Regions from separate parts of the Homo sapiens genome. Here all the other regions are linked to region 1. Evidence: fine-mapped expression QTL. A gene starts in region 1. Each other region holds a variant in brackets. All regions are shown on one strand. Distances are between the middles of the regions. Region 1 holds the start of PKHD1L1 (PKHD1 like 1). Region 2 overlaps PKHD1L1 (PKHD1 like 1). Region 3 overlaps PKHD1L1 (PKHD1 like 1).

Region 1 (2,768 bases):
AGAAAAATACTTCTTCCCGAAAGAGAGGAACAAAAGGAAAGGAAGGAGGGAAGGAAGGAAGGAAGGGAGGGAATGAAAGAAAGAGAATTTAAAATTTTCTACTTATAAAAATTTTTAAACTAATAAAAAAGTGCAAAGGATCATACCTACACTTAAATTCAAACATTGTTTAAAATTTGCCAGATTTTTTTTCAGCAAAACCATTTTGAAGTAAATTCCAGACATAAAGACACTATGACCCCAAATACCTCATCATGCAATTCCATCACTTGAAAACACTCTTTGACTAAAGTATGATACCACTATTATACCTAATAAAATGAACGCTTCTATAATATCTTTCAATACTTGTTACTTAATCCATATTCACTTTCCCTAATTTGTTCTGCAAACGTCCTTCATAGCTTTATATTATTATTATTATTTTTTACAAACCAGGATCCAATAGAAGCTTATGCATTGCTATTTGGGTAATAATCTTTTAATATCTTTTAAAAACACATAACATTTTAAAATGTAGAAACTGCAAACTAGGTAGGTGGATCTTCTCATCTTTTTTTGTTGTTTGTTTTTGAGACGGAGTCTCACTATGTCGCCCAGGTTGGAGTGCAGGGGTGTGATCTCAGCTCACTGCAACCTCCGCCTCCCGGCTTCAAGCAATTCTCCTGCCTCAGCATCCCAAGTAGCTAGGATTACAAGGCATGCGCCACCCCACCAGGCTAATTTTTGTATTTTTAGTAGAGATGGTGTTTCACCATGTCAGCCAGTCTGGTCTCGAACTCTTGACCTCAAGCGATCCGCCCACCTCGGCCTCCCAAAGTGGTGGAATTACAGGCGTGAGCCGCTGTGCCCAGCCCCTTCTCACCTTTTAAAGAGTAGGGAGAGGTGGGCAATCAAGAGATCCTGAGGTTAAGATATTAAGAACAGTGAGAGGATTTGGAATTAGCCCCTGGGGAGCATTCAGTGGTGAATAATAAACTGCCTTCTCCAGGGAGGTCAGAGAAACTTGCGTTTCATTCGTCTGCTATCTGGCATCCCAGAAACAGGTCAGCAGTGCTGGACCTCCCTCCATGCCAACAGTAAGCCTTCGCCCTAAGTCTACTGATTGTCAATTAAAGAGAGAGCACAATCTCATATGAATGTGAAGGGGTAAACACGCGTGGGGTTTGTGTATTAGGTGGTCTTATAGGCCCACCTGGGGAGGATTAATGACCAAGGCAGACAGGCAGATGAAAGTACGCGGGGAAAGAGAGAAAAGAAAAGAAAAGAAAAAAAACAAAAAGAAAATAGAGAAGGAGACCTAGGGAGACCTCAATGACCATTGATTCCTTTCGCCAAAAGGAGTAAGGCCCTTCCACCTATGGGGACAGCCTTGGGAAGGCAGCACCCAGGTTTGAGTGTGGAGGTTTGATTATCACGGACTGGCTCGGGGCCGGCTTGGTTCTCCCGCGAAGGTTCCAGGGTGTGTGTGTGTGTGTGTGTCCGCGCGCGCATGCAAATCCCAGAGGAGCAGCCCGACAGCAGGGGCGGGGCAGGCCACGGGAGGGCGGCCCAGTTCCCCAGCTCTCCCGGGACGAAGCGGGCCCGCCAGCGAGTCGCAGTCCCAGGAGCCGAGCTCCAGCACTAGAGCCAGCTGCGAGCGGAGGGCACCAACTCCGCAGAACTGGCTTTTCAATGGGACACCTGTGGCTCCTGGGTATTTGGGGCCTCTGTGGGCTGCTCCTGTGTGCCGCGGATCCCAGCACAGGTAACCCTTTGGGCACGCTAGGCAGGCAAGCAGGAGAGGCCCGCGTAGACACTACCCCTGCTCCCGGGGTCCTGGGAGAGGCAGGACCACCTGGCACCTGGCTGAGGCTGTGGGTGCGGTTGCATGACGATCCTGGGGACCAGGGGAGCTGGATAGCAGGCCTAGCAAACAGAGACAGACGCAGAGAGAGAGAAACAGAGACAAGGACACAGAGAAAGAGATTGCGAGAGATTGCCTTTTAACTCATCAATGCTGCTACTTGAATGATGAAATCTCCCACCGGCACCCACAAAGTGACACAAGTAGACTGAAATTTGGCGGGGGAGTGGGGACTGGGAAGAGGCAACCTGAGTCCCTTTTCCTCCATTCTTCTTGGGTCGCTTTCCTCACAACAGAAAGGGCAACAACCCCCAGTAGGACGGGGATGGGACTTCGTGGCAGGTGTCAGTCATTTCCAGGGGCAGCTGCCCTGTGTTTTCAAAGTAATACCCAGAAGAGGGCTGGGAAGAGACTGATAAGATAAGAAATTGGAGTTGTCTGTGGAGATAACAGGAGGATGAACCTGAGATAGGCGAGGAGCAGCACTGTCTGGAGATAGGATCCAGCTTCCCCGCTGGAGTTTCCTACTCTTGGGCTGCCCTGAGATATGAATGTGCGGGAATAAGAACACCTTGGAGCTCTTGGCAAAGACAGACCCGAGGTACAGAGGCACTGGGTCTGGGGCCTCGGAACTGGTCTCCTTTATGTTGGAGAGCTTTTGCTACTATAGGTGAAGTCCACTCTAAACCTTTTTAAGACAGAACTGAACAAGCCAATCATAATTCCCTTAGCCTTTTTATATACATCCATTTTGAGAAATTAATAATTTCTGTGGCCTTTCTTTGTATCATCCCTTAAATTTTTCTACCTACTGTGAAAATTTCTTTTAGGATTCCAGCAATTACTAGATCTGTACAGTGTAAGCAGAAAATAAACACCTCTATCCACTGTGTAGCTTTGAGTTGTTTTAAAGAATTATTTG
Region 2 (2,768 bases), 160 kb after region 1:
TACTGTGAAATTCCTTCTTCTTCCTAAAATTTTAATTTCTTTTTCCTAGTAAGCCTCACAATGAAATGTGGTAAGAAGCTACATATCTCATTCCACCACTATTACACAATTCAGTGTTTGTCTGGGCTCAATAAGTGTTAGTGGGTTTGTTAGCTCTTAGAAATTGTTGATACTCTGCCATAAAATCATACATATATTCATTCATTATAATGATCTCAATCACTTTTGTAAAATTCAGTTTCCTAGCAGAATTTGTCTTGCATTAGCCAAACATTTTTCAGGCTGAAATGTAAGCCTGTTTAGTTGGTATAAGATTCTTCTGAGATGTTTTAATGTATACTTCATTTTTATTACACAGTTTTGTCCTTAGTTAAAATAGAAACACTGAATTGTAAATGCTCTTTTAAGAGTTGGCATATAGCACTGTATAAATTAGATAGCTAGTAAAGTTAAATTTATATTTTTAAATTACCAAATGCCTTCAGTCAAGGCTTTAAAATTATGAGCATGTGAATAGGGTTTCAACTACAGTATAGGCTCCTGGGATCATAACTTGATTTGTTTCTCATTTATACTGTGTCTATATAGCTAATTTTTAAAAAACAAACAATGTGTAATGATTATTTGTGGTATTTTTTAAAGGAGTGGCTTTAATTTCGCAGGTCAGTTCTATAAGTGTTTTTGTTTTTAAAAAGGTATGCTTTCTTATGAAAGAATGATAAAGTTGAATTTGGGGGACTTTCTAAATTCAAACAAACATTAAGTAACGCATGTTGATTGTGATAATATAAAATACTTAGCTGTGATGTTCTGGCTTTTTTCCTTCATAGACCAATTCCTTCCTAACCTGGATTCCACTGTCCTTGGTGAAAACTACTTTGATGGAACCTACCAGATGCTTTATCTTTTGGTTAAAGGAACTATACCTGTTGAAATTCACACTGCCACAGTGATATTTGTTTCTTTCCAATTATCTGTTGCAACAGAAGATGACTTTTATACCTCTCACAATCTGGTTAAAAATCTTGCCTTGTTCCTAAAGATACCAAGTGACAAAATCCGTATCAGCAAAATAAGAGGGAAGAGTCTGAGGAGGAAGAGATCCATGGGATTCATAATTGAAATAGAGATTGGAGACCCTCCTATTCAGTTCATAAGCAATGGCACCACAGGTATGAATAACAGGTGTTTGAGATGGAGGAATGCAATTACCAAATCCATATCCATAAATAACCTGATCAGGGCTTGGTGAGCCTGGCCTCAGGAAATCCCATCAACCCCACATCCTGAACCCTCTAAGTGCCCAGAGAC[C/T]CTTTTTCCTTCTTTGCTCCTGTACTACCAAACTGTTTTAGAATTGGAAGGAATTTGAATCTCTGTTTTGTTATTGTGATGATTAATAAGTTCAACAAAAGAATTTGATCTAATATAAAAAGATCTGGGAAGACCTACTTAAGCAAGTGACCTTACAGATGAGAGATTAAGGATGAAGATAGTCAATGAAAAGACAGAGGAAAAAGAGTGTTCAAGCTATGGAAACTGTTGGTGAGAGTTTGGTGCATTTGAAGAGAGGAAACAGGTCCGATTGGTCTGGAGTGGAAGGAGCCAGGAAGGACAAGCTGCTGGAGGTGTAGCCAAGGGGTAGACAGGTGCTAGATGTGGAAAGCTTTGGAAGTCAAAGGAAGGACTGTGGATGTTTTCTTAAGAAAAAGAGTAAATATTCTTGGATATTCTGAGCAGTAGATTGGTGGGTTAGATTTCCACAGTAAAGTCACAGATTCAGCCCAAAAAGGGCAGATGTGCAAGTACATAATCTGTCTTTATTTCCTGTGACTGAGCGAATCATCCTCACAAGCCATCATCCCCTCTCTGTGTCCCTCACTTCCTATTTTTTATCAGAGATAAAAAAATAAGCTCAACTGTCCCATCAGAGAAATCTCTGCTGGCTGAAATCATTTCCTTAGGGTCACTCAGTTTGGGCACTTGAGTAAATGCTCAGCTCTTCAAATTTTCTCTATCCATCTGCTCCTTTCAAGTTGGGGTCTGAATACCAAGGGGCTGTTCTGGCCTCCGTCCTCATGTTATCATCTTGTCTTCACAGCCTCTGGTACAGAGTGGGTCATCTTCTCTGCTCTACATATGCATCTCTTGAGGTACTACTGAACTTTCCTGGTCTTCTGGGATGCAATAATATCCCCCACTGCTAACCTGCAACCATGCCTTTGTCTTCAGTGGTCAAGCACAAGTACTCTGATCTAGGTGTACCCCTCCCCAAGAACAGGAAAGGCAGGTATCTGTCAGAGGAAGACTTACCATCCAGTTAATGAAGCTTACACTTCAAGCCCCCTCACTGATACAAGTCCTGGGAGGGGCTTTCACTTTCAATACCTTAGGAGAGGTCCTCATAATGTGGTCAAATCATTGAATGTTATTATGAAAGCTACAAAGGTATGATTTTTCTGCATTCCTTTTCCTAAAGAGATCGTCCAGACATATATAAACTGCAGCCCCACTAGGTTGGGATCTACCCTATCTACCTGTGTTCAGTCACTTTATCATTAAACTCCCAGGCTCTGTGTAAACCTGGGTACTGGGTGAAGTTCTCACTTTATGCCACTAGAGATCTTCACTCATTTTCCCAAGAGGTTTGCTTCTAGGCATTGACCCTATGCACCTACCACATTATCACTCTGGAATTCTATCAGCTAAGCAGGTGGAAGTTTCTTCCATTGGGGGGATAAGCCTGTGGGAAGGCTTGCCTGTGTGGAGGG
Region 3 (2,768 bases), 90 kb after region 1:
AGTCGTGGGATCAGGATTCAGGTACTGTCTCCACACAAACACGCATCATTGTGCATTTCCAGACTTGAGCCATTACTCCTGCTTTCTCCTATGCCCGGACAGTGCAGAAATACAGTCATGCAATGTGTACCTATATGCTCGTAACTTAAGCTTAAGGCAAAAATAGTACTAATTGCTAACATTTATTGAGTATTTATTTTGTGGCAACTACCTGCCTACCCACGGAGAAGTCCTGCCTTACTTCCTGAGATGTTTTTACCTCGTTTTATGGTTAGAAGACAGATTAAACAGGTTAGACATCTTGCCCCCAATCCTAGTATGTAGCATCACAAATATAAATCACCTTCTTGTTATGCTTTCTCCATCATCTTATCTCCAGCCATGATCTGCTTCATTGGATCAAAGAAACATCTTTCCATACAGCAGTTCTATTCCACTGTAATTGCTCAAGTTTCTTTTTCTTAAACATACTCATTATTTGGCTCAAATTTGTGTACTGCATTGTCATCATTATTCAGGTGCGGAAGGCTGAAGTCAAAACACCAGATCGCATACACCATAGAAGCTCATTGTAACTCCTCAAGCAGTTATGATTACCTTGAACTTGCATTTTTATCTGGAGGTTAAGTTCTAAAGTCCACAAACATGATGAAAATGTCACATGGACAAGTGATCCTTGAAAATCTCTTTTAAAAGTACCTGTTGGGAGATCAACATAGAATCACTGAACAACAACAATCACTGTTTCTTTCCCCAACACTGGAACATCTGCTAGTTACAGTCCTATTTTCTGGACTCTTAACCTCTTTGTTTACTTTTTTTCAATAAATATTTTGAAGTCTTAATATTGAAAAAAAGCATCAATCTACACTTTGGTGGCTGATAGAATCAGGTCATTTTTTTTTTGCAATAATACATAGGAATAAAAGGGTTTGACAGTGTGATCTAGATATTTGAGAAAAACATACATGTTATGTTTTCCCTCTTTTTTACAGTGAAAATATGGAGGATGTTCATATCACCATAGCTGAAGCCAAATGTGATGTTGAGTATTCCAACAAGACACACATCATCTGCATGACAGATGCCCATACTCTATCAGGGTGGGCTCCAGTTTGTGTCCACATCAGAGGTGTCGGCATGGCCAAACTG[G/A]TAATAGTGCTGTTGGGTATAGTAATCACAGCAATAGAAAACCAGCATTATGGGAGGTGGGCTAATTGGTAATTGTTGTTTTACTTTAATGTCTCCAAAAAAATAACTGAGCTGTGACCATAATAAATCTAAAGTAGCTTACATTTTTTGTTGCTTTTCCTAAAATTTTTATTATTTTAGATTTTTGATTTTTCTGAGTTGTGGGGTAATTGGTAATAGATTTTTTAAACTTGATCATTATTGTGAAATAAACCAAGAGGCAATTATGACACATTTTAAGTAGGTTAGATTTTATTATTAATAAAATGCTTATTGTTTATATATATTTACTATATAATATAAATATATTTATATTGTAATAAAATGCTTTTTGAAAAATCGAATGAAAAACTCTGGTAAAATCCCTAAATTTTAAGGTCTCTTATGTTCTATTACAGGATAATGCTGACTTTCTTTATGTTGATGCCTGGTCCTCCAATTTCTCATGGGGGGGAAAATCTCCCCCAGAAGAAGGATCTCTTGTTGTTATTACAAAAGGACAGACCATTCTGCTGGATCAAAGCACCCCTATTTTGAAAATGTTGCTTATTCAGGGTAAATTTCTGAATATCTGTTCATTGGACTCTGCCTGATAAATATTTCTGTGAAACTGATTTAATCAAAATCCACAATTATGAACAAACATAGTTGCACTATCTTTTTAATATACAGTGTAGTCCTGGGCTTTCTAAATTGAGTATTACAATCCATTTGTGATTATGATATTATTTAATGTGTTGCAGCCAGCATTTTAAAAATTAAATAGGATAGACAGCATCAGAATAGATTGCATGCATATGGGTAAGTACCTTTTAAAGCTAAATGTTGTTTTATGAAACTTTTGGTTCAATAACAATGTGGGGAGGTGTGAGCATGCCCGCCCACTTTCACTAGATCACAACAAAAAAGGTATTTTCCACTTTGAAAAACACTGATGTAGTGGGTCCCAGGAAATAAAAAGTCATCGAGATTTGTTCAGGTCTATCCTAAATGATCCCCTTGACTCCCTTTGGAAGATAGGTTGTGATTTTCACCTTTGCCTGTGAACCTGTTTATGTTGTTGCCTGGGTTTGTCTCTGCTGCTGTGTTTTATTTTTTACTATGGAAAACTAAATAACCACAACTGTGATAATTGCATGTAAAAGAATCATTAATTGGTAAGAGTAGACTGCTTGAGGATTTAGTGCACAAACTTTGCCATAACAGGCTTAGCCACCGGAAGACTCCTGCATTGTTATTTACTATTTTTAACTTCTGGGAAAATAGAAAAGTTTCAGGTTTTTGAAGTTATTAAATATTGGACCTTTGGACAAATAAAATTTTACTACTTACAAATTTATAAATTTACACTAGTCTCATAAAAATGTATCTTGGTATGATCTTTAATAATGCTAATCAGGCTATAGCTGTTGAGAGTGCAAATTAATGGGTAAAAGTTCAAAGCTAATGTTGACATTATAATGGTTTTTATAAACATGCTTTTCTTTAATTGCTTTTGTTCTTAATTTATATTTTGAGGTGCTGTGTTTGTACAACGAATTTGCATAGCTGAGCTATTTAGTAGCATCTAAAATAAG

The links. PIP is the estimated chance that this variant, and not a neighbour inherited with it, causes the effect.
Region 2: its variant is fine-mapped to the expression of PKHD1L1 in whole blood (INTERVAL, PIP above 0.99).
Region 3: its variant is fine-mapped to the expression of PKHD1L1 in whole blood (INTERVAL, PIP above 0.99).

The regions. Positions count from the first base shown.
Region 1 is chr8:109,360,907-109,363,674 of GRCh38, forward strand. It overlaps PKHD1L1 (PKHD1 like 1), which reads left to right and starts at 1,555. Exons shown (of 78, transcript NM_177531.6): 1 at 1,555-1,747. The coding sequence starts at 1,675.
Region 2 is chr8:109,517,337-109,520,104 of GRCh38, forward strand. PKHD1L1 (PKHD1 like 1) reads left to right here. Exons shown (of 78, transcript NM_177531.6): 73 at 831-1,172. Among named protein-coding and RNA genes, the nearest start is that of EBAG9UORF, 21 kb to the right of the region's middle. The variant C/T (reference allele first, on the strand shown) is at 1,312.
Region 3 is chr8:109,451,129-109,453,896 of GRCh38, forward strand. PKHD1L1 (PKHD1 like 1) reads left to right here. Exons shown (of 78, transcript NM_177531.6): 41 at 1-21; 42 at 996-1,152; 43 at 1,590-1,746. Among named protein-coding and RNA genes, the nearest start is that of EBAG9UORF, 87 kb to the right of the region's middle. The variant G/A (reference allele first, on the strand shown) is at 1,153.